Regions from separate parts of the Homo sapiens genome. Here regions 1, 3, 4, 5, 6 and 7 are each linked to region 2. The links come from fine-mapping of genetic effects on gene expression. A gene starts in region 2. Each other region holds a variant in brackets. All regions are shown on one strand. Distances are between the middles of the regions. Region 1 overlaps ARHGAP26 (Rho GTPase activating protein 26). Region 2 holds the start of ARHGAP26 (Rho GTPase activating protein 26). Region 3 overlaps ARHGAP26 (Rho GTPase activating protein 26). Region 4 overlaps ARHGAP26 (Rho GTPase activating protein 26). Region 5 overlaps ARHGAP26 (Rho GTPase activating protein 26). Region 6 overlaps ARHGAP26 (Rho GTPase activating protein 26). Region 7 overlaps ARHGAP26 (Rho GTPase activating protein 26).

Evidence for each region.
Region 1: its variant is fine-mapped to the expression of ARHGAP26 in whole blood (TOPMed, PIP above 0.99).
Region 3: its variant is fine-mapped to the expression of ARHGAP26 in whole blood (TOPMed, PIP above 0.99).
Region 4: its variant is fine-mapped to the expression of ARHGAP26 in whole blood (TOPMed, PIP above 0.99).
Region 5: its variant is fine-mapped to the expression of ARHGAP26 in nasal epithelium (TOPMed, PIP 0.96).
Region 6: its variant is fine-mapped to the expression of ARHGAP26 in whole blood (TOPMed, PIP above 0.99).
Region 7: its variant is fine-mapped to the expression of ARHGAP26 in whole blood (TOPMed, PIP 0.99).

The regions. Positions count from the first base shown.
Region 1 is chr5:142,801,667-142,805,734 of GRCh38, forward strand. All of the region lies in intron 1 of ARHGAP26 (Rho GTPase activating protein 26), which reads left to right. Among named protein-coding and RNA genes, the nearest start is that of ARHGAP26, 33 kb to the left of the region's middle. The variant G/A (reference allele first, on the strand shown) is at 1,906.
Region 2 is chr5:142,768,607-142,772,674 of GRCh38, forward strand. It overlaps ARHGAP26 (Rho GTPase activating protein 26), which reads left to right and starts at 1,771. Exons shown (of 23, transcript NM_001135608.3): 1 at 1,771-2,309. The coding sequence starts at 2,156. RefSeq lists silencers at 1,575-1,984, 1,995-2,114 and an enhancer at 2,410-3,245.
Region 3 is chr5:143,020,302-143,024,369 of GRCh38, forward strand. All of the region lies in intron 12 of ARHGAP26 (Rho GTPase activating protein 26), which reads left to right. Among named protein-coding and RNA genes, the nearest start is that of ARHGAP26-AS1, 150 kb to the left of the region's middle. RefSeq lists an enhancer at 1,605-1,694. The variant C/T (reference allele first, on the strand shown) is at 2,063.
Region 4 is chr5:143,207,737-143,211,804 of GRCh38, forward strand. The region is part of intron 21 of ARHGAP26 (Rho GTPase activating protein 26); the gene reads left to right. Among named protein-coding and RNA genes, the nearest start is that of ARHGAP26-IT1, 17 kb to the left of the region's middle. The variant T/C (reference allele first, on the strand shown) is at 2,500.
Region 5 is chr5:142,846,278-142,850,345 of GRCh38, forward strand. All of the region lies in intron 1 of ARHGAP26 (Rho GTPase activating protein 26), which reads left to right. Among named protein-coding and RNA genes, the nearest start is that of ARHGAP26-AS1, 21 kb to the right of the region's middle. The variant A/G (reference allele first, on the strand shown) is at 2,184.
Region 6 is chr5:143,039,789-143,043,856 of GRCh38, forward strand. It overlaps ARHGAP26 (Rho GTPase activating protein 26), which reads left to right. Exons shown (of 23, transcript NM_001135608.3): 14 at 2,028-2,102. Among named protein-coding and RNA genes, the nearest start is that of ARHGAP26-IT1, 150 kb to the right of the region's middle. The variant G/A (reference allele first, on the strand shown) is at 1,662.
Region 7 is chr5:142,834,848-142,838,915 of GRCh38, forward strand. All of the region lies in intron 1 of ARHGAP26 (Rho GTPase activating protein 26), which reads left to right. Among named protein-coding and RNA genes, the nearest start is that of ARHGAP26-AS1, 32 kb to the right of the region's middle. The variant C/A (reference allele first, on the strand shown) is at 2,159.

The sequences.
Region 1 (4,068 bases), 33 kb after region 2:
ATGATGATGAAGAATTCCCACCCCTCCCCCAGCCCCCGCCTTTGGCTGCTCTTGTGTTCAAAGAATGTCACTGTACCCAACTGTTTTCCTTGCAAGGAATAGGGACGAAAGTACCTTGTCTTAAACTTTTGTGGTTAGAGAAGCCCACAGCCCTTAGGGAAACATTGCATTTTTAAAAAATGACTTTAAATCCGTGCTGTTGATACTTATGTCTAATGCCAGTCATTGGTCTGGGATCTGTGTGCAGAGTTGCCTTCTGTCTGGTGAGACTGGAGTGGGTGCGGGTCAGATTCCGTAACCTCGTGGAGAGAGGATAAAAACTAGATTGAAAGAAGAACATCAGAGGGGATCTGTTCCCTCTTAAATCCCTGGAAGCTCCAGAGGCCGTGAGAGTTGAGATGAGAGAAACTATTCTGTGGTACCTTTTATATGAATGAGGTATTTGTTTACAACAATATCCAGATAATTTTCTTTTTACAGTAATGGCTACAATTTTGCCCCATCCTGTTATCATTGGTGATGAAGGCTATAAACAGATGTGTGGAAGTTGATGTTTTTCAGATTTCGTTTTCATTTTATTCTGAGCATTCTTTAACAGAGCTGTACCCAGTTAGCAGGATTTACCTTGTTTAAAGTTTGGTCTCCTTTTATTTTTCTGGTCCTTAATTTTAGTGGAGAGGTCCATGCGAAGTCAATTTGCTGAGATCTGCCAGTAGATGGAGGAAAGAAAAAGTACAGTAAGTCCTCACTTAACATTGTCGGTAGGTTCTTGGAAACTGTGGCTTTAAGTAAAATGGATTCTTGAATAATGTCATTTTGTTCAACGTAGTTTTTATTGTAATGTTGAGGACAAAAAAATTGGTTTTGTTATGTGTTGTTTTACTTAAAGTTGCAGTTTCCAAGAACCTATCGACGATGTTAAGCGGGGATTCCATGTAATTGTAATCGTCAGTTGAAGTGGCTCTGGAGTGTTTTTGGGATTGAAGTTTTATTGATGAAAAAGTAGGCATTGGCAAATTTTTTTTTTTAACAGCTGTATTGAAATACAATGCACATACTAGGGCACTGGAAATTTAGAATTAGCTCAGGGACACTAGAGTAGACAGTAGACCAAGTCTGGGACTCTGATGAGAGGCCCATTGACATTATTTGTTTGTTTAAATTAGGAGGCCCAAACCTGAGTTAGATTTCATCCTCTCCAAACCTCAGTTTCCTCACCTGTAAAGTAGAGAAAATAATACTTGGGCCTACCCCATAGGGCTCATTCAAGGATTCAGTAAGCCTCTAGTCCATATTAAGTGTTTTGGGGCCATGCAGGGCCAACTGAAGTTCCAGTGTGTAGTGGCGGGGAGATACCCCTTAATCCAGCCTCATGCGCAGACTGTCATAAAGTATGGGAACCTTATCTTTCTGGTCTGCATAGTTTCTTCTGGTGAAAGAATGGTTAATTGAACTGAAAGTACATTGTGTCTTGTGTTTGGGAAATAAAATAGTGATCTGAGATGCCAATTAAATCTAGTGTTGCCAGATAAAATATGGGACACCCAGTAAAATTTGAACTTCAGATAAATAATGAAAAATTTTCAGAATAAATATGTCCCAATATAATTGTAGTTTACCTTAAATTTAACTAGTTGTTCTGCATTTTTATTGGTGAAGTCTGGCACCTCTAATTTTGTCTCATTGTTTCCCCATTTGGAATCTTTTGGCTGCCTTTATGATAGCTGAAAATGAGTTGAGGAATTTCAAATAGGATGCAGAGGTATGATTTTATTTGCATCTGCCCCATAGCTCCTGTCCTTTGTTGTTGCTAATAGAAACCTGGCCTTTCACGAAAGGTCCCGTCATCTATTAAAACACTGGTTGCATAGCAGCCAAACATTTTTGTTGAGAAATAAGCCGGAC[G/A]GAAATCTCTGTGATGACACTTCCTTCAACCTCACGCTATTGCCGAACATGCGACAAGGAGGATGTTGGGAATGGAATCATAAGAATCCTCCTGCAGCACGTCAGCAGTTCACCCTGGAGCAGTTAGAGGTCAGCAGGCAGGGACTCTGGTGGCATCTGGGGATGTGTTCTTGGGCTTTAATAGCAGGTAGGAAGCCTTATCTGTGGAGGAGTCCAGCAGTGAACATCCCATTCTGCATGCCAAGGGAACGCACAAATAGGCAACATACAAAAACAAAAGAAGTCAAAGGCCTGGTCCTTGATCACTGAGGAGTGTATAGTTCCAGAGAGGGATAGGACCAGCAGGTATTTACACAACACTTCCTTTGTGACTTTGTATCAGCACTGGTAGGTGCTTTCCACGCACTGTCATAGTAATCCTTAACAGCAGCCCTGTGAACAAGATCCTGTTATTATTCCCATTTTCCACATGAGGAGACTGAAGCTTAGGCTGTGGGATGGAGCCTGCAGCCGTAAAGTCAGCCTGACCTAAAAGTTCCTGTTCTGTCTCTACTCCTTATCAAATATTGCAAGTATAGGTTGAATCATATGAAATTGCCAGTATGTAACAATTTTGACCTACAAAAAACGACAGTTTTATATGGTTCAACTTCATCCAAAGAACGAGACCCAATATTATATACACACACATATATATATTACAAATAACTTGCTATTCCGTAACTATTACACATAACTTGCCGAGGCTGACTAGGGTGAATGAAATATGTGGACCTAGTTTTGGTCTAACCAGGGATGCTTCTGGGAAGCTAGTTTTCATTCATTCACTCACCCACTCACTCATTGGCTCACTCACTGAATGGAAACTTACTGAATTCTTCCAAGCATATTATTAAGCATAGGTTTGAACAGATTTTATTTTTTATTTTTATTTTTTTGAGACCGAGTCTCACTGTGTTGCCCAGGCTGGAGTGCAATGGTGTGATCTCGGCCCACTGCAACCTCTGCCTCCTGGGTTCAAGCAATTCTCGTGCCTCAGCCTCCCGAGTAGCTGGGAATACAGGCATGTGCCACCACACCCAGCTAATTTTTGTATTTTTAGTAGAGACGGGGTTTCACCATGTTGCCTAGGCTGGTCTCAAACTCCTGACCTCAGGTGATCCACCTGCCTTGGCTTCCCGAAGTTCTGGGATTACAGGCATGAGCCACCATGCCCGGGCTGAACAGATTTTTTTTTTTAAACTTTTTATTCAGAAAAATTTCCTTCCTGCTCATTTGTAGTGAATTCTGCTCTCACCATCATGCAACCACTAATCTGTGTTTTGTATGTGGGCCATTTCTGGCCATCTTGTATGAATGGAATCATTCAACGTATGATTGTTTGTGTCTTGCTTCTTTCACTTAGCATAATGTTTTTCGGGTCCATTCATGTTGAAGCATGTGTCACGAGCTTATTCCTTTTTATTGCTGAATAGTAGTCCATCATGTGGCTATACCACATTTTCTTTTTCTTTTTCTTTTTTTCCTTTCTTTTCTTTTTTTTTTTTTTGAGATGGAGTTTCACCCTTTTCGCCAGGCTGGAGTGCAGTGGCGCAATCTCGGCTCACTGCAACCTCCGCCTCTCGGGTTCAAGCAGTTCTCCTGCTTCAGCCTCCCAAGTAGCTGGGATTACAAGCATGTGCCACCACACCTGGCTAATTTTGTATTTTTGGTAGATGTGCGGTTTTGCCATGTTGGTCAGGCTGTTCTCGAAGTCCTGACCGCAGGTGAACCACCCGTCTTTGCCTCCCAAAGTGCTGGGATTACAGGTGTGACCCACCACGCCTGGCCCACATTTAGTTTTTCTATTCTCCAGTTCATAGACATTTGGATCATTTTTACTTTTTGGCTATTATGTATGTTGCTACTATGAAATTTTTGTACAAGTTTTTGTGTGGATGTATCATTTCTCTTGGGTAGGTAACTAGGAGTGGAATTGCTAGGTCATGTGGTAAGTTTGTATTTTACTTTTAGCAGGTTTTTGAGGAGGGAGAGCGAAAAATGAGTTTATATGAAGGCCCAAAAGTGTGACTGAGGTTTGGAATAGCTAATGAGGCAGCTGTAACCTGGAATGAAGTACCAGAACCCAGAAAGATGAGCTGGACAGATTTTAGTAGGAAGGTT
Region 2 (4,068 bases):
GTTGTCTTAAACCATTAACTTTTGGTATCATTTATTCTGTATTAATAGATAACCAGAACACCTACCTTTAGGTGCTCAAGATAAAGCATTAAACAGATTTACTTTCATAGGGTTTCCATTCTAGATCTTTCTCATCTTTGGCAAGTGAAGAACAATTGTTTTTGGGTTGTAATTATCTATCAGATAGCTGTCTGGACCTGCTATCAAGTCTAAATTTGTAGATACACCTATCAAAGAGATCACATTCACTTATTTATACATTTACTTATTTATTTTACAATTTTTTGTAGAGATGGGGGGGGTCTCGCTGTGTTGCCCAAGATGGTCTTGAACTCTTGACCCCAAGCAATCCTCTCACCTGGCCTCCAAAAGTTATGGATTACAGGTGTGAGCCACCATGCTCCATTTATGAATTTAATACATTAATTGCTTTCTTAATATAGATGGGACACCTCTGACCCCTCCTGAGTGAAAAATCCATGTTCCCAAGCACCCAGGCCTTCTATCCTATCACAAGGCATGGTTATCGCTTGTTTGCTTCCATCTCACCTAATACCACCAGCAGCTAAATTCATTCTGTTATTCATCTTTGTATTCTTACCATCTAGGCTAGTGCCTGCACATAGCAGACCTATTTAAAAAACAAACCAACCCAAACAAACATGAAGCCCCCACGTAGCTGAAGGAGGGCTGCTGGTTCCTAGACATAGAGATAATTTATTCAAGGACAGTCCCTATCCTCCAGGAGTTAACAATTCAGCACTAGACACCCTGTGGGACCCAGCCTGACAAGTGCAACGAGTGAGATGCCAGAATTGAGTCCTGCGGTCGAACAGAGGGACTACAGGGCAACGCACTGGGCGTGGGAGGTGGAGATGGCTCTGGGAAAGGATCCATTCATTTATTCTACATTTATCAATCACCGTAGCACACACAGCACATAGTAAGTGCTCAATATCTGTTATTAAATGCCAGCCACTGTGCTAGGTGCCAGGATGCAACAGCGGACAAGAAAATTGCAGGGGCACTTGCCCTCGTGGGGCTTACCGTGTAGCGAAGGATGACAGGCAGTAGACTGTCATCTTATTATGTAAAATTGTGCTAGATGCAGAGCAGGAAAATAACAGGCGGCTGAAATTCTAGTAATGATGTGAGCTCCTTCGGCTGAGGGGAACCGTGGGCGGGTTCTGAGCAGGAGTGGCCGTGAGGGGGACGGACCGTAGGGGGCGGGAAGACTGCAGGCAAGAGCTGGTAATTTTAAGATGCAAATAACATTTTTCTGCCTGACTGGAAGAGGAGCGTTTGGTCGCTCGGGATTCTCCCGGAGCAGGGGGCTGTATTTTGAGTGTAAAATCGGTTGCCCCGCAGTGCAGGGCAGGCGGTGGTGAACTGCAGCCCTAGTCCCCAGGTTTTTCATGCTTGGCACATCGAGGCTCTTCGGCCCCCAGGACCAGCAGACTCGCCATGCGTGGCTCGGATTCGGGCTGGAGCAGGCGGGCAAGGTAGCGGGGGCGGGTGCACAGCAACGCTCACCCCTAGGTTTCGGGGTCTGCAACGCTGGGAGGGCAAGAGGAGGCGGAGTTTGCGCTGCGGACCTAGGCGTTGGCGAGGGCCACGCCCCCAGCCGCAGACCCTGCCTCCAGGCCCCTTTGATTGGATCAAGACCGCGGAAGGGCCGGGCGTCCTCGGGCGGCCTGAGGGTCGGGCAGGGGAGGGTGCGCTGATTGGCCCGGCGGGGATTAAGTCATCGCTAGCAGGTTCGAGCGGCCCAGACACCGGCGGGGCGGCCGAGGCTGCTGTGAGAGGGCGCTCGAGGCTGCCGAGAGCTAGCTAGCGAAGGAGGCGGGGAGGCGGCGTCTGCACTCGCTCGCCCGCTCGCTCGCTTCCCGGCGCCGCTGCGGGTCCGCGCTGCGTTTCCTGCTCGCGATCCGCTCCGTTGCCCGCGCCCGGAACAGCAGCACCTCGGCCGGGTCCGAGCTCGGTTCGGGAGTCTTGCGCGCCGGCGGACACCGCGCGCGGAGTGAGCCAGCGCCACACCTGTGGAGCCGGCGGCCGTCGGGGGAGCCGGCCGGGGTCCCGCCGCGTGAGTGCTCTGGGCGGCGGGCGGCCCGGGCCCCGGCGGAGGCGCGCCCCCCGGCTGGGCGCCGCGCGCACCATGGGGCTCCCAGCGCTCGAGTTCAGCGACTGCTGCCTCGATAGTCCGCACTTCCGAGAGACGCTCAAGTCGCACGAAGCAGAGCTGGACAAGACCAACAAATTCATCAAGGAGCTCATCAAGGACGGGAAGTCACTCATAAGCGCGCTCAAGAGTGAGTGTCCCGAGCCCCTCGGGGACGCGGCTCCGGGGCGGGAGGAACTGGGAGGTGGCGCTTAGCCCGGGTTGCCCGCGCGTCTGCCGGGTTTCTGCTCCCGGTACACTGGGGGACGGGTGTCGACGCCTCCGAGGCAGGAAGGATACGTAAAGCGGGCGAACCAGCAACCATCAGATGAAGAGAGAGACCCGTCGCTCCGCCTTTTGCGTTCAGGGATGGTCGGGAGGTGACCCAGCGCGGGTGGTGCTCTGGGGCAGCGCGGGTGGGCGTGGGCGTGCGCGGCACGCAGGTGTCCCAGCAGTGGGGCCAGAGTGCCGAGCGCGCCGCAGCCAGCGGGCAGATCCCATCGTGTCCACAGCTCCAGCTCCCTTAGGGGCAGAGTTGCTCAGCCTTGAGTGCCCAACCGTGAGAATGGAGCGTGCCCTGCCGAGGGGGCGCTGCCTCCCCTTGGGAAAAGGTGGGTTGTGACTGCTTCGCTCCCTGTACGCAGCTCCAGCCTAGTCAGGCCGCCGGGTTCCCTGGGTGGAATGCTTGGTTAGCTTGCGATTCCTTGGAGTATTGGCAGCCAGTAATCTCTAAATCTGGAATCAGTACGTGCGCAGGTTCTGATTCTTGTGTTTAGCAGAAGGTGATAGGGGTGGGAGTAGAGAATCAGAGTGTTCCTTTACTCTAAACTGTGGGCGAGGGTTTAAAAATAGAATGTACATATCCCAACTCTCTCCCTCTCCTGCTCCCAAGCTCTCCTTTTTACCTCTTCCGTTATCCTTGTAAAGGTCTGAGAAGGAATATCCATAATTCTCAGAAAGAAGTTCAAACGTATTTCAAAGATTCTTGGACCTTTTGTAAAACCATTTTTGCGTTTTTTCCTTTTGGTACAAGGGGAGAGATGCAATTTTGCATTCTGCTTCACTTTTGCAGAGCCAGAGAGTTTCTTTTTCTGGCCAAATAAGCGTGCTCTAGGGATGAGTGCTTTGGATTGTGAGAACGTTTTTGGTGCCTTTTCAGTCTCCCCATTTAAAAATAGCTCAGTCCATCTTTTAGTTTTAAGAATCAGGAACCACATGAAGGCAGATAGTGGAATTGTCTCTGACTCTGTTACTGTATCTGTTTCTGTGATGGATTTCTTAGTAGGTGATACCTTTCAGCTAAGAAATCTTGCCTTAGCAGAGTAGAGTCGTAGCTGTGGGAATTGTTCCCAGGCCTCTTTAAAGGGCACTTACAAAAGTCAGGTGCCTGAGATGTCATTTTGTCAGCTTGTTGCTTCTAAAAATGAAGAGAGAGACAATGGAATGCCAGGGCAGCCCAAAGTGCCAATCTTTTGGGATGAAATGAACACAGGACTGTGATGTGATGAGGCTTCTTAGAGGCAGATTCTTAGGCTGTGCCTTACCTGAAACATATGAACAGACCCTTCCTTTGTCAATAATCAAGGCCATTCTTGGTTTAGGGGATGGGGGTCCCTGGTTTGGAGTAAGTTAGGGGCCCACTTACAGGTTGGGCCCAGGAATTTTGATTGAACCTCAGGCTGGCTTTAGTGAGTTCTCTGCTTCACTCAGCAAACTTTTGGTGTGATTGTGGTGTACTGGGTACTGCACTGGGCACTAAGGGTGTAGGAGTGAATATTTTGCTGCTCCTGTGCTTACAGAGGTGTACTTCATTCCAGGCACTGCTTCACATATAATTATCTCATGTGCTTAGATTCATTCTGCAAATGAGAAAACAGAGACTGGGGGAAGCATTACCTCTGAGTCACACA
Region 3 (4,068 bases), 250 kb after region 2:
AGGACACTCATAACTAGAACACACATCTGTCTCTACCTTTAAAGCTCATGTGATCTGCTGTGGAGGTTCAGACCACAGGGGAACAATAGACAGATGGCCCAATTACATCGTGTGGGTGTATGTCATATTCAAACCATCTACAGAAGTACCCAGGGTGCAGACTACATGCCCAGAGCTCATGGATTTGAGAGTGAGCTACACTTGAAAAATGGAAATTTCCTCCCTTCTCTCCTCCCCAGAAGAAGAAAAAATATAACACTTCCTCCTCTTTGCATCCAAGTCCTAGTCCTTTCTTTCCTTGTGGTTTGTTTTTAATCTAGTGCTCTAGTGCTTTTTTTTTTTTTTTTTTTTTTTTGAGATGGAGTCTTGCTCTGTTGCCCAGGCTGGAGTGCAGTGGCATGATCTCCGCTCACTGCAAGCTCCCCCTCCCGGGTTCACGCCATTCTCCTGCCTCAGCCTCCCAAGTAGCTGGGACTACAGGCACCCGCCCTCACGCCCGGCTAATTTTTTTGTAGTTTTTAGTAGAGACAGGGTTTCACCGTGTTAGCCAGGATGGTCTCGATCTGCTGACCTCATGATCCGCCCATCTCGGCCTCCCAAAGTGCTGGGATTACAGGCGTGAGCCACTGCACCTGGCCTAATCTAGTGCTTTTATAAGAATCCTTTATATTTGAATAAAAATGCTGAAGAACCCACTGCAGTTTGCCAATTTGTCATTCACACTGGGAGGTGGGGAGAAGAGCAGTGATTGAAGAAGGAAATATGAACTCATTGTAGAATATTACAGAAATACAGCAAAATGATTTTGAAACATTCAGTCAAAAATCATTGGTAATATTATTCCCAGAGATACTTCCTTCTTGCCTTTTTTAAATGATGTCTTGTATGTATTTTGTCAATGTCAGTATGAATTTTAATTTAACTGGCATTATGTTGAATATGCTTGTTGTATTCTGCTTTAAAAATTACAGACATTTTCTGATGTCATGAAATGTTTAGAAGTATCACCTGTCATGGTTGTTTAATATTCTGTCATTGGACTATATCTTAATTTGTTGAATCATTTATCATTGTTAGACTAATGCTCTTTCCAGGTTTTTGGTATTACAAATAACATTGGCCTATGTTATTCATAATAGCTTCAAAAGTTATTAATTTCATCAGTTATTGGCCTTGTACATCAGCCTTTGTACGTATCTCAGATCATTCTCTTTGGGTAGATTCCGCCACGTGGATTAGAGAGAGGGTTTGCATGGAGGAGTAATGTGTGGCTGGTGTAGAATAGCATCCTGGGTGTAGAACTTTGGACAGGTGGTGCGCCTCTCTAAGCTTCCATTTCCTCTTCTGTAAAATGGGGATAATAATACCCCTGCTTCATAAACTCATTGTAAGAATGAAAGTTCAGCACATTAGTATCTGCACATTAGTTGGTAAGTGCCTAATTACTCTTGGTTATTACTCTTATCATCTGGCCAGGCCAGTTACTCCCACAACAAAAGGAAAAACCCACTGGAAAGGAAAAGCCAGCTGGATTGGTAACACTGCTCTTGAAGGGAGGAAGACAACCTGCTACTGTTTCTCAGTCTTGGTGCTTTATGAGTGTTCATTCATTTAATCCTCGTTACTGTATTTCTCAAAGTGGGGTGTGCACACCACTGGTGGTACACTAGGTCATTTGAGAGAGTATATTTTAAATTACCATCTAGACTTCTGTATTTATTTTGATGTGTATTGTGGGGGAACATAAGTTCTCTGAAATCCCCTGATTTTATTTTGTTTTATTTCATTTATTTTTTTGAGACCCCTGTCACCCAGGCTGGAGTGCAGTGGTGTGATCACGGCTCACTGCAACCTCCGCCTCCTGGGCTCAGGTGATTCTCCTGCCTCAACCTCCCTAGTAGCTGGGATTACAGGTGCCTGCTACCACACCTGGCTAATTTTTTTTATTTTTAGTAGAGATGGGGTTTCACCATGTTGGCCAGGCTGGTCTCGGACTCCTGACCTCAGGTGATCCGCCTGCCTCGGCCTCCCAAAGTGTTGGGATTACAGGCATGAGCCACTG[C/T]GCCTGGCCAATCCCCTGATTTTACAAATGTTATTGCTTAGCACAGGGGTCCACTTTTTTTAGTAAAGGGCCAGATAGTAAATATTTTTATTTTTATAGGAGTATTCAACTCCGCTATGGTAGTGTGAAAGCAGTCACAGACAATATGGAAATGAGCAGGTGTGGGTGTTTTCCAGTAAAACTTTGTTTTACAAAACAGGCAATGGTGAATTTGGCCCAGGGACTGTAGTTTATTAACCCTTGGCTTAACACAAGGCTAAGTTTTTAAAATTAGTCTAAATGGGATGGCATGAGGTTTTGAGAGGGAGCATGAAAGTGTCACACGATGGGCTGCCATTTGTACAAATGCTGTTCACAGCAACTGAGTTTCCAAAGGAGCTCACAGGCTTAAAGAGGTCAAGGGAGCACAGTTGAGAAGTAGTGAAGCTCATACTCAAACCCTAGCCTGCCTCATTGCCAGGGTCATTTTTTTCCTGCAACACTTCATATGCTTGAAATCTTTGATCCATTCTGCCATCCTGTTCATATGTGGTCCACCCATGGGGGCTGGAAGGAATTTCATCATCAGACTCCAACATCTAACCCCTCTAGTTCTTTGTGGCTGAGGGGCCATCCCATATTCCTTCTTAGTGCACCACCTCATTAGAGCCCTCAGTGGTTCCTCAAACACCTGTGCACAGTGCTGGGTGCACAAGGGTCACGCATTTCACTGACTGGCTTCCCCAGGGTCAGACCCTTAGTGTGGCCCACCACTCTCCCACAGGGATTTGGCAACACAACATAATGCTTTATATGTTGTTTCTGTACATCCACTCATCCTTCTTTAGGCCGTCATTCAGAGCAAACTCCCTGATGGCGTTTTATTCAGGTTTGCCTTGTTTTATGAGGACAAGATTGAGGACCAGGAGAGGAGATGGGGAGGGACATCATTACCATTGCTCTGTTTCCTATTGTTGTGCCTCTGACTGTACATTTCCTTCATCTCTGTTCCTCAGCCTCCCTTGATCTGTAAAACAGAAAAGGAGATTTAGGCTTGAAAACTGTAGGGAAAGCCTTGATGGGATCGCCTGGGCCACTATTTTTAAAAGACATCTAAAGCCTTCAGCCATTACCAAAAATCCACCGTCTCATGAAAGCAGCAGAGGGCAGAAAAGAGGATTTGTTTTTCTTTTGCTTCTAGTCACCTTTGGCCTTTTGCTGTTAGAACACCCACAGTTGAGAGGCAGGAGGAGGCAGCCACCGGTAACCAGGATCCTTTTGGGATCAGAACCATCCAGAGGCTGCCAGGCCTCTGCTGGTCGGTGGCTTATAAATAGAACATTTCCCCTTTTAAACCTGAGAAGGGTGGAAGGCATTAATGGGCACAGTGGCCTGGCCGCCTATGCACTGGCCCACGAGGCAGTCAGCTGAGTGCAGCATCCCCTCCAGCTTTCTCTCCAGGCCTGCCAGGTCTGAGCTGATAGAGGACAGACACTCTGCCTCCCTCCCTTGCCTGCGTTCCTTCCTGCCCTCCTCCCCACACCCTTTTTCTTTCCCCTTTCTCCTCTCTCCTGTGCATGCAGTTTCCGTGGCCACCACTTTCATCTTCTGAGCCGCAGTCAGGCGAGGTGGTATAATTCTAGCTCTCCCTAGGTGCTGACTTTCTACACCTCACTTTTCATTATGAGTTGCCTGTGCAACACAGTTGCTGTGGTGCATTGAGCTTGAATTACATTTAGTTGAGCTGTAATACCCCAGCTCTAGAATAGCCCTGGCTCGGAGGGCAGGGGGCTGGAGAGAGAAGAAGGGGCAGGAACAGCTTGTTTTTGCAGATATTTTATTATTTGAGTTCCCAGCTATTTTGTTTGATGAGACCCTGGCCCCCAAAGCTATGACTGGTGGTGGTACTCCTTGGACTTGCATGGATAATCAGAAGCCTTTCTGCTTGTCCTAAAAGACACTTGACAAATCTACCCTCTCTCTCAGCTAGCTTTAGACTGGCAGATGCAGCCAGTGTATGCCTCTGC
Region 4 (4,068 bases), 440 kb after region 2:
CTCTCTGCACTTTGGTGTAAGATAACATAAGAGGAAACAGTGTTGGGACATGTGCCAACCTTTTCTTTTCTCATGTTTATCAGGCAGCGTCAGGCAATATTTATTTGTGGGGTTGGGCCCCTGGCCCTAAGCACTGACACCCAGTCACTTAGACCAGATCCACTGGGGGAGAGACGTCGAACATAGAATAAAAGCTTGAGAGACGAAGCGATTTCTCTTAAATTGCTCACGGCTTATGCCTCGTTGTCCCCCATATACTCCCGAAACCATCCATGCTCCCAGCCTGCTTCTGTCTCTGTGTGTCATGAAGCCTGAGCTGTCCTGGGAACAGGCACTACCTCTCTCTGAGGGAGAGCAGCTTGACCTAGTTCCTCTTCTCAGGGCCATGCTGTAGTTTTCCCTGCTTTTGTGACTTCCGCACTTAAGTTTTTTGCTCTTGTGCTCTTTGGGAAAAAAAAAGAGCTCTTTACAACCGGGAAAAGAACGAATAGGGATCCTGCAGAATTCCTATGCTGTGGAGCTCCTAAACGTGCTTCTCTCTCAAGCTTAGTCTCAGCTTTCAGACAACCAAATTGTAGAGCCCAGTTATAAGCATCAGAAGCGTTTTGGGCTTTGGGAGTATTTTCCCTTCTGTCTTTTTCTCCAAAGGGTGGATCCAGCAGAGAGGCTTAAATAATTTATGAAGCCGAGTTTCACTTTTAGAAGAAAAGAAAACCCCATGCTATTTATATATATACAGATACATATATTACTTTATTCCCCACTAGGCACTTACACATCTATCATTTCATTCTATCCTCGTGTGAGAATGAGAAGAGAAATGGCCTGAACCCTACTGTGGAAAAAGAAAACTAAAACACAGGGAGGTGACTTGGACACAATGCTATGACTAAATGAGAGCCAATCCAGAATTCAGGACTTCTCCCCCTCAGCTCAGCACTCTTTCCTCCAAACACGTGGGTAACCCCAACTTTGAGTTTCCGTGCAGCTCCCAGCCCAGAGCCTGACTTGCTCTTTTAGGTTTTATACAGCTTTCTACCTGGCTTTGTCCTGGATGATGGGAAGGAGATTTTCAGTAATTCTTTTTTTTCTCACTCTATAAATAAGGGAAATTTTCAGATCATGTCTTCCTGACATTCTAGTGATTTCCTAATCATTTCTTGGACATCTTCTGGGCACTTTGGGAGACATCAACTTTCTAAGATACCAGAAATAGCATAGATTATTCTCATTAGATCATGAGGACCTGAACCAGAGGAAACTAAGTGACCACAGACAAGTCAGCTTCCAAAATGCCTCACTTACTCATTAGAGAAACTTGGGCTTTAGGAAAATGTAATTCCTTCATTTTTATCAAAATGGAGTAAAAATCTTCAAAATATTGGCCCTTTGGACAAAATGGGTTAAGAGACTCAAGAGAGTGAAATCACTCAGCTAAAATCCTAAAATGTCCTCTCTGCCTTGATGGTACTCACTTTTTTGTGACTCTGAGATTTGGGGCCCTGTTTCTTGTCAAGTATCTCTACCTCTTCACTCGTTTTCATCTCCCCAAATATTTCCAGACTGTTTTTCCTTCCTACTTCTTCCTACCTCCCAAAGTATTTCCAGATTGACAGAGGGCAATGGCAATAGAATCTGCCATTCTGTTGCCATCTTGTGTGTCTGGGGTCACAGTTACTCAGTACCTCCTCCCCTGGCCATTGTTAGAATAGCACTATTTGGACACCCTTTAGGAAGCTGCCCTCTTGAAATAGTCAAGGCAGGCCGGGCACAGTGGTTCACAGCTGTAATCCCAGCACTTTGGGAGGCCAAGGTGGGGAGATCACCCGAGGTGAGGAGTTCAAGACCAGCCTGGACAACGTGACAAAACCCCATCTCTACTAAAAATACAAAAATTAGCCAGGCATGGTGGTGGGCGCCTGTAATCCCAGCTACTCAGGAGGCTAAGGCAGGAGGATTGCTTGAACCTGGGAGGCAAAGTTTGCAGTGAGCCAAGATCGTGCCATTGCATTCCAGTCTGGGTGACAGAGCTAGACTCCATCTCAAAAAAAAAAAAAATAGTCAAGGCAGAGTTGGACTAAATGTGTGTGCCCAGATGAGCACAGACAGCAACACTGCTGAGGAGCTAGCCCATCAGAGGAACAGAGAGGGCCGAAACCTGTACACTGTAGTGTATAGCAAAGAGGTGGTGGTATACACCCATTATTCAGGTCCACTGGGGCCTCCCTCAAATCCACTTCCAGAGCATGAAGCTTCAGATTTCCTTCCCTGAGCAAAGCCTTTATAAGTAAATATTGAATTAGATCTAATCAGTGGTCCCATGAACTTCTGAATGATGTCTCCTCTGGAAATTGCTTACTGTCTGAATTAGTCTGTTTTCATGCTGCTGATAAAAACATACCCGAGACTGGGAAGAAAAAGACGTTTAACGGACTTGCAGTTCCACGTGGCTGGGGAGGCCTCACAATCCTGGCAGAAGGCAAGGAGGAGGAAGTCACG[T/C]CTTTCATGGATGGCGGCAGGCAAAAAGAGAGTTTGTGCAGGGAAACTCCCGTTTTTTAAAATCATCAGATCTCGTGAGACCCATTCAGTATTATGAGAACAGTACAGGAAAGACCGTCCCCAGTGATTCAATCATCTCCCACCGAGTCTCTCCCACAACACGGGAATGATGGGAGCTACAAGATGAGATTCAGGTGGGGACACAGAGCCAAACCATATCACTGTCCCCTCTTCAAACCATTTATAGACCTTGTTTGTTCAAAGTCAGGAATGAAGATGCCTTTTGCAGCACAGTAGAGAAAGGGTGCTGGAGACACATTCCCTCCGTATTTCCCTTTTCTTTCACTTGCTCACCCCTCCCCCAAAAAAGCCGATAGCCCCAAACCCGTAACTTGCATTTGCCCAGGGGTCCCTGGAAATTATGCCTAAATGATCAACCCCTTTCCACCTGCCAGTCTAGCTGGTCCCACCTCCCTGTAGTGCCATATGATGGCGAATGGGTCATCATTTTGCAAGGTTTGCAAGGGCATTTGAGGGAAACTCCTGTGAGTGCTTTCCAGGCCTTGTGCCATGCTCAGAGGTGAAAATTAAAAGGGAACTAGCAGGAGGATCCCAACTTGTTCATGCCCTTAAAGGCCCAGCTGAGGTCTGAAGGGCACTGTTGACAGGAGCAGCCGAAAACTACCCCAGGCCCTCTGTATCCAGTTTTGAGATATACTGTGGAGAATAGGAAGCCAAAGAACCAATGATGCCTGGTGGAGATTTTTTATTTTATTTTTTTATCAGAGCCAAAGCCTACAAATACAATCTCTCTGCCAACAGGATTTGTCTGTTTTGGTAGGAACCCTACCTAAAGCAAACTGCTTAAGACCTTTCAGAAGGAGTTATGGGACACTTGACTTGTTGGGCTGACAAGCTTTTAAGAAGATAAGACTTTTTGGGTAGGGTTGCCAGATTTAGCAAATAAAATAAAAATACAGCAGACCCAGTTAAATTTGGATGGTAGATAAACAACAAAAATTTTTTCATATATGTATGTCCCATGCAATATTTGGGACATAACGTATACTAAAGAAATATTTATTGTTTATTCTGCCATCCAAATCTAACTAGGTGTCCTGTATTTTATCTGGCAACCCTACCCATTCCTATTCCTTGGGCAACAGGAATGGCCCCCTTTAAAAGCACCTCTTCTGTCATTTCTCCCATTTTTGTGCCTATCCTAAAGCAGTAGAGGGAGATCTCAAGGGAAAAGCCCTCCCATAGACTGTCAGTTGCCTATCAACTTGAGAAAAAAACAAGGCCCTTTCTTGGCTTGCTTATTTATTTATTTACCTACTTACTTTTTTTTTTTTTTTGAGCCAGGGTCTCACTTGACTAGAGTGCAGTGGTGCAATCTCAGCTCACTGCGGCTCCCACCTCCTGGGCTCAAGCAATCCTCCTGCCTCAGCCTCCCAAGTAACCTGGACTCCACACGTGTCCCATCATGCCTGGCTAATTTTTTTTATTTTTTTGTAGAGATGGAGGTCTCTACAGTCTGGTCTTAAATTCCTGGGCTCAAGCAATCCT
Region 5 (4,068 bases), 78 kb after region 2:
ATGGCTGGAGTTGTATCCAAGCTCAGAGGGGTGCCGAGGTATATGTGTCGGGTGAGGAGGAGTCACCAGTGCATAGGTGGGAGGGTGGGGCATGCCACCTTTCGTGCCTGTCTCTTGCTCCCAGGGGAATGTCTTTTGGTGTGGCCCAGGTGAGCCAGAATTTCAGGTCTTTTTGAGGATTAGTCTGTTTGACCTTCTTCTCCTCTCTGGCAAAGAGGATTTGGATGGGATTTCCCTTCAGTGGGGATTTTATCTTAGTAAGGGCTGCAGAACTGGGCCTGCTGCTTCTAGGATGTGCTATGTCATTCCTGCTCACTCCTCTGCTGTGACCACCCCTGCCACTTCCCCTTTATACCCCAGAATGAAGACTGCATCTCATAGACATTTGGGAGCAAAAGAGACTTACATTTTGTGCTGTCCTGTGAGAATCTATATATAGGATGTTGAGTAACCACTTGTAAGACACTTTGGTATCTTATTTGAGTAGTTTGGCAGATGTCCTTTAGTCTTGTTTTCTCTTTCTTCATTCATTAATTCAATATGTATTGATTAGTATGCTTAAAGCATACATGTATGTGAATAACTCTCCCTTAAAGGAGGATACCATGGGGGGACAGTGAGATCCAGAACCACTCGGTGTGCTAAGGACTTTTCACGTCTTATCTCAGAACAACCTTATGAGGTGGGTAGGAAACCTAAGAAGGGGTCTGTGAAAAAATGGGTAGCGGGGGGTGATTCATGAAGGGCCCCATGTGGGGCTGCCAGAGTGAGAATCTCAGCTCTGTTGCTTGCTCTCGGTGCACCTTGGGCAAATCACTGTGCCTCTCTCACCTTCTGTTTTCTCATCTGTGAAACGGGGATAACAGTGCCTGTCTCATGGGATTTTGAGAGTCAAATGAAACAATGTTTGTAAATTTCACAGCATTTCTCTGATACACAGTAAGATCTCAATAAAAGGTGGCTATTTTTAAAATTACTATTATTAGGTACTGTTATCTCCTTGTTTTCAATATACAGAACCTGAGCCTTGGGGAAGCTGCCTCAGCTTAGGTCACACAGCGAATACAGCAAAGGATGGAGATGTCTTTTTTTTTTTTGAGACGGAGTTTTGCTCTTGTTGCCCGGGCTGGAGTGCAATGGCGCGATCTCGGCTCACAGCAACCTCTGCCTCCCGGGTTCAAGCCATTCTCCTGCTTCAGCCTCCGGAGTAGCTGGGATTACAGGCATGCGCCACCATGCCTGGCTAATTTTGTATTTTTAGTAGAGACGGGGTTTCTCCATGTTGGTCAGGCTGGTCTCAAACTCCGGACCTCAGGTGATCCGCCCACCTCGGCCTCCCAAAGTGCTGGGATTATAGGCGTGAGCCACCGTGCCCGGCCAGGATGATGATGTCTTAACTGCCATTAGGTGGCACAAATAGAGTGCCACGAAGAGGCTCAAGGGAGAGAAGCAGCACCTGTGTTGTATGGGTGGTGGGCAGTGCTGCAGGTGGACTGGCGTGGGCCTGGGAGGACTCCATGGATGAGATGGCATTTGGAGGTTTGGCCCATCTGGACACCTGGAGGTGGGGAAGTGCAACATTGCTGGTGGAGTGAACATCAGGGAAGATACTCAGGGTTGAGAATTGGGTTGTGTGTGAGCTCAGGCATCCTGATTCAGAGCAGAGGTGGGGCTGTGTAAGCCCATGAGGGCAGGGGCTGGGCTGGGTTAGTTCTGTCCTAGAAGAGTGCCTACCACCTGGGAGGGGCTCCACACACAGTTGTTCAATCCAATTGAATGGCAGTGTCTGAAGGTGGCAAGCTTTAGTTGGTGAAGGGGAGTGATCTGGGAGAAAGGAATTTTGAACTTCAGTTGGAGAAGTTGATTTCTGCCCACAGTGAGACGTGGAATTCTTTCATTTGTATTGCAAAAGGCTAGCTCTCTCAGCCGCCTGGTATTAAACTGTAAGTTGCTCTAGACACTAGTTTTGGTTTTATCTGGACAGTGAATCTGATACTCTCTGAGCTGTTTGGTCAACATTGCTTATGGTAATAGGAGATTACAGGACTGGGTGGCCATCACTCCCCGGGGTCTTTTAAATTTAAGACCACAGAACCTTGAACCAAACAAAAGCTTGTTTGAAGTGAATAGCGTGTGTGGCCCTGTGGTTTTCCCAGTCCCATTTTCCTCCTTTACTCCCTTCC[A/G]GTTCTTCCTTGTTTTCTGTGGTCAGATTCTCACCATAGGTGGTTCTCCAGCCTTGGCACATCAGCTGAGTGCAGGCGCTCCTCACTTTGTCTAACATATGTGTTAGAGTAAGGCTGTGTGAACATCATAGTTGTGTAGGTGGCGTGGAAGCTGCCGAGGTGAGCACAGTGTGAAAGAATTTTGCTTATAATGAGTCCTTAGTGAGGCAAAGGATGGCATTAGTTTTGAACATCTGTACCCTAATTCTGTATATGATTCTTTGCATGGTTTTTATATGTTAGGTTTTCCTGTAGCAGTCTACAAAATTGGAAGTTCCTTAAGACAGGGGCCTGCTCCCTCACTATGTAACCTAGCCATGGCTTGTGGGAATTAACCAGTGGGCATCCGATTTATGGGCCAGGCAGCTCTTTCTTTCCCGCCTACTTGGTTTCTTGGCCCTACTAAGTAATGACTGTCAGAGGACAAACATGGGTGTGTTAGAGATCTCAGGAGCAATTGGTTATCTTTGCACTAAATTGGTTTTAAACTAGAGGTAATGATCTGAAATTTACTGGAAGTCTCTTCCATGTTGTTTATTGGTTCCATGGTGATACCATGCCCAACTCTAACTTGATTTTTTATCAAATGTGTTTATTACCCTCTTCTCTGAGCCACAAACAACACTTTAGAAGGGCATAAAGGGATGGGAGTCAAGGTCAGCAGTTTTGACAAATGATTTGAAAGATTGAAACCATCTCAGGATAATTTTCACTAGCTAAAGCAATTCCAGTAGGTTTTCATTGTGAAGTAGGTGTGGACTCTTGTGTTCTCACTCTTGGGTAAGACAGGTTCTCACACCAAAAAGACCCAAGACTTCAGAGCAGGGGAGGCACACCTCTTATCTCTCCCCTCCCAGAGCATTTCCATTTGTATTTGGCTTTTCTTTTAAAAAGACAAATGGTGCTTGAGAAGGTGTGCATACTTTCAAACAGCCGCCGTGAGATTTTGCTAACATTCCTTCTCTGTGTTGAAATTCTCTCCTCCTCCATTGACAGTGTGCTCTCCATGCTTCATTCATCCCCTTCTGAACGTCCCTTCCTTGCTCACCTTCTTTGTCCTGTGGATCTTCTCAAGGTTCCCTTCCTTGTGGGCTTCTCCTCCCCAACCAGAAGGTCTGCCTCTCTTTGTCACTAATCTCTCCAGTCCCTAGCTTCTGCCACCACCCACATGAACATGACTCCTAGACTTCCCTCTGGCAGCCCCAGCCCCTCTCCAGTTCTTTAGTTTCTTGATGTCTGCTGGCATCTCTAATCTGTATGCATTGCTGGTGCCTCAATCCTGCCGTGTTTCTGTCCTCTTTCCTCCAGTCTGCTTCACCTCCCATGCTCCCTGTTTCTGTTAAAAATGCTGTTGCTGTCCCCGTCATCCAGGCACAACCTCTGGACCCACATGTGATGATTTGTTTCACCCAGTTAGTCCCCAAACCCCACGGGTGTTCTTCTGCACACACTCTTCTCACCACGCCAACCACTGCTGGTTCAGACCCTGGCTACCTCTAAACTAGGCCCCAGCCAGAGCCACCTCACTTGGATCTTTCCTTCCCTTCCTCTGTGGAGACAGAGACTCTGCTCTGCTGCCTCCTGCAGCCTCATGCCCTCATTGTGTTCCCTAGGCCTCTTCAGAGCTCTGCCTACCTCTCCTGCTCTGCCTATGGCTTGTCCCCTTCTTTTGGCCCTACTATTTCCCGTGTGTGCAGCCCAGTGTCCTGCCTCTGTGCTTTTGTTTAAATTGTCCCCTCTTCCCATAGGGGTTATTCTCCCCATCTCTCCTTGGTCAATTCCTTTGTGACCAGTTTAACTCCTCCTTCCTTAGAGGAACATCATCCTTTCAGTGGGGGCAGTTTCT
Region 6 (4,068 bases), 270 kb after region 2:
CTGATGTAAAACTACAAAATAAATACAATAAGTAGGAGAAGAAGAGGTGTACAAGTTCCTCTTCCCCCTCTAAAATGAAAATGGAAATGATGTATTTTAACTTCTACGAAAGTCTTCATTGAGCACAAAGAAGAAATAAGGACAGTATGAGTTAGGTGCCATTTTAGCGTAAATAGTTGAAAAAAGTGGGTATCTCCCGATTGCAGTGTGTGTATGTGCATACGTATTTATGGTGATCAGAGATGAACAGACTTCCCATACTCTCTGGGATTTGACAATTGTCCAGTGGGAGGTGGGATTGTGTAAAGTCCCGGGAAAGCACAAGGATAGAAGAAGTAGAGACACTTAAGACTTTTCAAGCCCACAAGCTGACATGTTACTGAATCAAGTTTCTGCCACTGAGTAACTTGGGACCCATCACTTAGTTTTTGAAGTTTTTGACCAGGGACTCCTAGTCCGTGAATCATGCAGAATGATGTACATGATTTTACAGGTCCTTTTTAGCTGTAAAATTCTATCATTCCAGACCACTTCTTTTTATTCATTAGTTCCATGTCTACATAGGTCTTGTTGAAAGTACTGCAGAATTGGTCCTTTCCTGAGTTTCTTTTGGAAGATTGTGTTTTGGCCCCCAAGTATTTTATACTGGCCTTGATGGAGTATAATCTCGTGTTTTGTTTATTATCATGTACCATATACTGATCCAGGGACTGAGGATGTAATGGTGAACAGGACACAATTACTGTTTACATTCTATTGAGAATGTAACAGAAAAAACAAGTAAATAATCAAATAACAAACATAATTTCAGATATTGTTAACTGCTATAAAGAAAGAAAACAGGGTAAGGGAATGACCAGTAATGTTGATTGTGGATTGCATTAGATTGAAGCGGTTGCATTTAAGCTGAGATCTGAATGATGAAAAGCTCTGGGAGAAGAGCAGTCCAGGTAGAGGAAACAGCTGGAGCAAAGGCTATGAGGTGGGGCCATGAGCTTGGCATGTTGAGGTGACAGGAAGGCCAGTGTGTGGAGCAGAATGCATGTGGTCAATGATGCAATCAGAGGTAGTCAGTGCTCGATAGTATAGGCCTTATAGGCCATTGTAAGTAGTTTTGATTATGGTCTAAGTGCAATGGGAAGCTATTGGAGGGTTTTAAGAGAAGAGGTGATATGAACTAATTTGCACTTTAGACAGTTCACTTTGGCTACTGGTTGAAGAATGGACATCAGAGGAATAAAATAGGAAGCTGGAGCTCTATTACTTGAGAGGGGTCAGATATGATGGGCCTGGAACTAATAGGAGAAAAATCATTTCAAGTCACCTGGTCTAAATTGCCTTCTTTTGTAAATGGTACAGTGGTGATCTAATCCATGTATTTAAATGAACAGAAACACTGCAGTGGATTAGTTTTTGATTTTTTGTTTAGATGTTTAATTTAAAAGTAAACCCTTACTAGTCTAATTGTACAGTTCCTTGGGTTGAAATAAAGGTGGTCTTTTTTGATAAAGAATATTTGTATTATAAATGAATGGATCTTCTAATTTCTCAGTCTTGGCTAACATTCCTTAAAATTAAAAACATTCTTACACCTCCGTATTTTCATTTTTTGTGTAAAAATAGATTATAAAGTGTCTTTTTCTGTTGTATGAATTTTTAAT[G/A]TCATTTTTGGCATTTTAATTTTAAAAATTGGTTAAATATGACATATTTAAAAGTGTACATTTTGCATCTTTTAGAACTCTTCAGATGCTGCCTTTGGCAAGAGAAAGGAAAGCTTCTTTCGCCGCTGATGACTGAACTAACATGAGGGCTGAAGTGTGCAGCACATCCGTGAAATCCTAGACAGCTGTACCAAATCCCACTCGTTTGCTAAGAGCTGAGCTGAGTGACAGGGGACTTTAATTAGAGCAGCTTTTAGGAGGACTGAGAAAATGAAAAAAAAAAAAAAAAAAAGTGCATTTGGCTGGATTGGCCTGACTTGTGTTCTGACGTGCCTCTAATTAAATCATCACTGTTTCTTTCCTCAGGGATCAACGAGCAAGGGCTGTATCGAATTGTGGGTGTCAACTCCAGAGTGCAGAAGTTGCTGAGTGTCCTGATGGGTGAGTGCCGCAGTGGCTCTGCTAGGCAGGTCCCTGGATGGGGGGCCCACTCTGAAAAGTCACCAGGTCTGTGAGTAGATACAGCCTGTGGCAAAGGAATCGGGGTGTCCGTGAGCTGTCACCTAGAAGTCATCTGCCCCATCGGTCAGTTGTCATGGCTTCAGACACTGCTGGGAAAGGTTCTGAGTAGGACTGGACAAAATAAAAAATGCCAGGGCCCAGACACCACACCCTCTCTGTCTGTAGGCTCAGTGCTCTGGTCCAAGTGGCACTCAGTCACTCATGTGACCACCACACCCTACTCTGTCTTTAATAGCTTATGACTCCCTCCGTTCTCTTTTGGGACAGGTATTTAGTGGGACACACCCAATGCCCAAGGAAAGGCATCATTCTGGGCTCCAGAGGACCTCAGAGTTCATGTTCCTGATACTGAGCAGGTGTCATGTAACTCTCAGATAAAATATATATAACCAGAGAAATCTTCTGATCCTCTTTGCTTCTAGATTTCAACCGAATACCTGTCACTTGAGCAGCAGAACCTCCTTTGCCACTGGCTGATATAAATACAAAGCAGTGTCTCCAAATGTGCAGTATTTGAATCAAAAGCCCATGAGTCCATGAGCCAAATTTGCTTAGGCTGCAGATTTCCTGTATTTTTAGATATGAGTGCAGCCAGCCTCCATGAATCACATGGACCTAAATGGCAAACAGATCAGGTTTCACAGAGGCTGTTATTCCTCCCCATGGAAGCCCTGGCTTGTAGAGAGGGACTATCACTTGGGGTACGCAGCTCAGTGTTTTGGACAGGGACAGTTCTTGTGTTAGTATTTGTAATTTCTTTTGCCATCCCACTTTCTGAAAATAGCTTTCTTGTGTAAAGAAATCTCTTCTCTCATGTTGGCCAGAATGACTGTCTTCACCTCTTTTTGAGAGAGTCATTCACTTCTTGTAGCCAAAACCCTATTGTATTGCTAGTTAGAGTGAGATCTGTTGTTTAAAACTATGATTATTTGCGAGGTACTCTAGCAACGAGTATCTGGGTTTTTTTTGGTTAAGATTTGAAATATGGTTAGTTTTTGTAAAAATTAAACTTTTCATTTTGAGATAATTGTAGATTTACATTCGGTTGTAAGAAATAATATAGAGATCCTGTGTACCACTTACTCAGTCTCCTCTAAAGGTAACATCTTGCAAAACACAATTTTAATATCACAACCAAAATATTGGCATTAATTTAGTCAAGATGCAGAACACTTCCATCACTAAAAGGATTCCTTGTGATGTTGTACAAGCACATACCTCACTTCCCACCTTGCACCCTGTGCCTAACCCCTGGCGATCAGCAATCTGTTCTCTATTTCTATAATTTTGTCATTTCAAGATTATTATTTAAATGGAATTATACAATACAGAACCTTTTGGGATTGGCATTGTTTTTCAATCAGTGTAATTTTCTCAAGATTTATTTTTGCTGTTCCATGTATTAATAGTTCTTTTTTATTGCTGAGTAATATTCCATTGTATGGATGTACTGCACTTTGTCGAACCATTCATTTATTGAAGGGCACCTGAGTTGTTTCCAGTTTGGGGCAATTATGATAAAGCTTCTATAAATTTTCATATATAGTTTCTGTGTGAGCATATATTTGTTCCTCTGGGATAAATGTCCGAGTGTGCAAATTGCTGGGTTGTATGGCGATAGGGTCAATTTTTGAGAATTTCTAATATAAGGAAGAATTAAGAGTCTAATAGGTGTCAATCCTTAGTTTTTCATTTCTGACCAGAGCTGCAAACATTTGTGGGGTGTCTGCTGCTTAGAACAGATGTCAGGTGCTAGAGATTAAATTTTAGAAAGAGCTGTTCCTTTTCTGTAAGGAGTCCTGATAGGGTGAAATATGTGTGTATATGAAAGCTGTAATGTAAAGTATGATATTCATGCTTAATCTGTGCTGGGTCTAGAAGATTG
Region 7 (4,068 bases), 66 kb after region 2:
CAAAGTCACGTTGCAAAGGAACATGCATTAAAGGTGCGTGGCCATTAGCAATCTACCATATCACCCAAAGAGTGCTATGATCCTGTGTAGACCAAGTTTATTGTTAATACAGAGCTCTATAATACTGAGACTCTGTTCCACCTGGTTCACGTGTGAACACTGTCAGTTGACAGAGCCAGGATGCCTGGGGCTAGTAGGGGATGTATTGTCTCCATCTGATAGAAGAGGATTAGATCAGAAATAGGAGAGCTTTTAAGGATTGCTTTTCTTTGGTAAATCAAGTTTGATCTGTACTAAATCATTTTCTTTTTCTTGATGTTTCTTTCATTGTTTGAAATAGCCTCTGTTTATCTCATGAAGTGATTTGAAGTTAATGCTTTAACAACATGAAAACATTTCTGGACTTGGAATGGCTGTTCTTCAAAGCACATTTGTACCTTAACCCATCAGAGATAGAATTTATGGTATAGAGATGTCTTCTTTTTCTTCTGGTTCTAGATACCCCGTGTAAGAGAGTATTCAGGTGGCCCCATTCATTTAACTCCTGGGTCTTGCAATCTTTATCAAAGTGAAATAGTCAAGGTAATATCAAGTCTATTTGATACAAGAAGAGTCTCTGATTCATCAAAAACATCCAACTGACATATTACCCAGATAGATGCTTATAGGGTGGTTAAGTCTCACAATTTCTTTGACTTGTCTTTTACCCAGGTGTCTTTTCAAAATGGAGGGAAATGGTGTTTTGGATTTGATTTGGTGATTTCGTGATTTGGTAATGATAATAGCAAGGAGTGGATCCTTTTTATTGAGCATTTTCTATGTTCATGGAGTTCCCTGAGCTTAGTACTTTTCACACATTGTCTCACAGGGTTTGTGGGGAATGAAATTAGGTAACCCATGGTTAGCACATGATACATAATAAAAACCCAATAGTGGTTAGCCACCAACACCAAGAGATGGATAATAATAATTTTCATTTAATTTAGCTCTTACAGTGATCTCAATTAGATTCTATTTGTGTTATTAACTTGTACAATCAAATCATCACAAAACCCTCTAAGATTAGTTTTAGTATTACACCCATTTTATATATTAGGAAATTCAGGTACGCAGAGTTGAAGCAATTCACAGAGTTAGTAAATGGCAGAGCCAGGATTTAAACCCAGGCCAGGGCATCTGAATCCAGGGCATTGGTACCCTTTCTTGGTTCTTGGGAATGGAATCTTCACGTACATTGACTTGGTGTCTGGATTCTTGGAGAGCAAAAGTAAGATATCATCAACCCACTTCCCTCCTCTAATGTTTAATTCTGGGTCCAGGCATCCTGGGCAGGGGCTCTGAACTGGTGATGCCAAGTTGCTGCTTCACTCAGTTAATGATCTCTCTGGGGTTTTGGCTTTTCACTTAATCTGTGGTTCATTCTTCCCCTCTGAAGAGAGGAGCTGGCTTCCTTAAAGCCTGACAGCTTTTTTCCCCGGTGATGAACCAGTCATATAAATCATTTACAACTTACTCTTTAAAGAGATGTTCCTTTTTCCCAATGCCAGAATTCAAGATACTCTGTAAGGCAGGAGCTCAAAGCCCTTTACCTGGGCTAATTAGACCACCTATGCTAATTAGACCACCTCTTCTCATTTCTCTGTTTGAGGCTTCAAGTAAGAAGAAGTCTCCCATGCACTCAGTCTGAAGTAATTTCCATAGTTTTCCTTGGCATCACTGAGTATTTTGAGACATCTCGAGGCCTGTGTTTTCACAGAAGTTGTCTCCGGGTTACTTAGAAGAGTAAGGATTGGAATAGAATTGCAGGGTACCCCAGTTTTAGTCTCCCCATGGAGTAGTTCAAAGGAGTTTGAAATTGCAAATATAAATAAGACTTTATGGTTCATGTTGTTATTGCCACCCTTCCCAATTTAGAAAACCTTTGGATCAGATACCATACTAGGCATTTTACAGGTATTATTTCATGTATTCTTTAAAACAGTTTTATGAGATTGGTATTATCGTACCTACTTTCCAGACATGGAAACTGAAGGACAATTATGTAACTTGCCTCAGGTCAGGTAGGGAGGAAGTAGCCCAGGTGGTACTGAGATCAGAGCTCAGGTTTTTCATATTTCAAATCCTGTTTTTTCCTGGGTGACTTACCCCATTGATGTGT[C/A]CTTCAGGCACCCTTTAAATCTCTCGCAGAACGCATTTGGAAACCAAAACGGTTTTTGTCTAAAATTCATTATCTGGAACTTCTGTAGTCAGTACTCTTTCTTCACCTTATCCTCTTTCCATTTTTTCCTCTGAGTTCTTGGGATGAAGTAATGAAGTTTGGAGGCAAGAAGGCCTGGGATTAGGTTCCTTTTAAGTTACTTGGCAAGAGAAAACAAAAGGGTAGACGTCATGAGAAAGTTTCCCATTGTATCTCTAAGCTCAGTGGAGGATACTCTATTGGAAAGTTCTGTTCTTCCCATGAGAGGAATTAAGGAAGGGAAGAAAGATCTTGGCAAAATTCTGTTTTTTTTTTTCACCCTCTCCCTCTGACCAGCCTTAGTGCTTTGTGTTCACTTCTGCTTTCCTCTTCTACCACCCACCCTGGGTTCCTCGTAGTGAACACGTCATTCGAACTTGGTATCTTGTTACTCTCACGTCTCACTTGAGCTTCACTTGGCGATGATAAGAAGGCCTGGTTTTTAGGCTTGCAGTGGCCAGTTGTGCCTGCTTCTCCTGCCTTGTGCCCTGTACTTGCCCTTTGGTACTTTGTGCAGCTGCGGAGCTTAAGGGTGAGCTAGTCCTATCTTTTCCCTGCAGTAGAAGATACTTTTGAATGTGAAATCAGTATTGAGTATTTCGTAAGATCCCTGATTCTTCTTGTTCCTTTTTGGGCATCATGGTTTATGAGATTCTGGATCGTCAGCCTTGGTAGAATAGTTATATATTTATACTCCAGCTCATTCTCTTTTCTTAGGACTAACTCAAACAATACAAAACAGTTTTGCCCCTCACATTGCTTCAGATGAAAGCAGAAGAAAAGAATAGTTATTTATGTACATAATTTCACAGTAATCAGATCTTTCATTTTTCCCTGCAGGGATATTGGCAGATAGCAATCTGAGTGTTTGCAGGTATGACATGTTGAGGGTAGGCTGGGCGCAGTGGCTCATGCCTGTAGTTCTGGCACTTTGAGAAGCCGAGGCAGGTGGATCACCTGAGGTCAGGGGTTCGAGACCAACATGGCCAACATGGTGAAACCCCGTCTACTAAAAATACGAAAATTAGCTGGGCATAGTGGGTGGGCACCTATAATCCCAGCTACTCAGGAGGCTGAGGCAGGAGAATTGCTTGAACCCAGGAGGCAAAGGTTGCAGTGAGCTGAGATCCCACCACTGCACTCCAGCCTGGGCAAGAGAGTGAGACTCCATCTAAAAGAAAAAAAAAAAAAGTTAAGGGTAAAATATTGATTGATTCTGTAGTAATGTTTGTATGGTACCTTAACAAGGAAATAGGTTTTGCATTTTTCTTCCTCCTTATAGCCAAGCTTTCATTGTTCTTACCTTTTGATTGAACAGAGAAATACAAAGGAAGTTAATTTTATAATGAGATGGCCAAAGGCATAATGATATACTAATGCAGGTATGAGGTCAGGTAAACCTGGGATAGAATCTAGGTTTAGCCACGCTTATTGGCTGTGTCACCTCAGACAGGTTGTTGAACTTCTCTGAGTTTTGCTTTTATCATCTTGGACAATAATGCCTACATTTCAAGATGGTTGTGACCATTAAAAATAATTAAATGAATTCGTAAGCATCTTGGAGTGTCCTGTATATAGTGGGGCTTATATATTATTGTTCTTATTTTGTTTGCTACAAATGCACAGAACAAGCTGGTTTGAGGCACTTGTGTCTAGTAGTCATGTTGTGGGATCAACTTTGGAAAAAGAGACAGCTTTGGAATTATCTAGTCTGAAATTTTCATTATACAGACAAGGAAACAGACTCAGAAAAGTTAAGTGACCACGTCAAAGCTGTAGAACTGGATAGGGACAAAGCTGAGACTAGAACTCGTACCACTGACTCTTAGCTT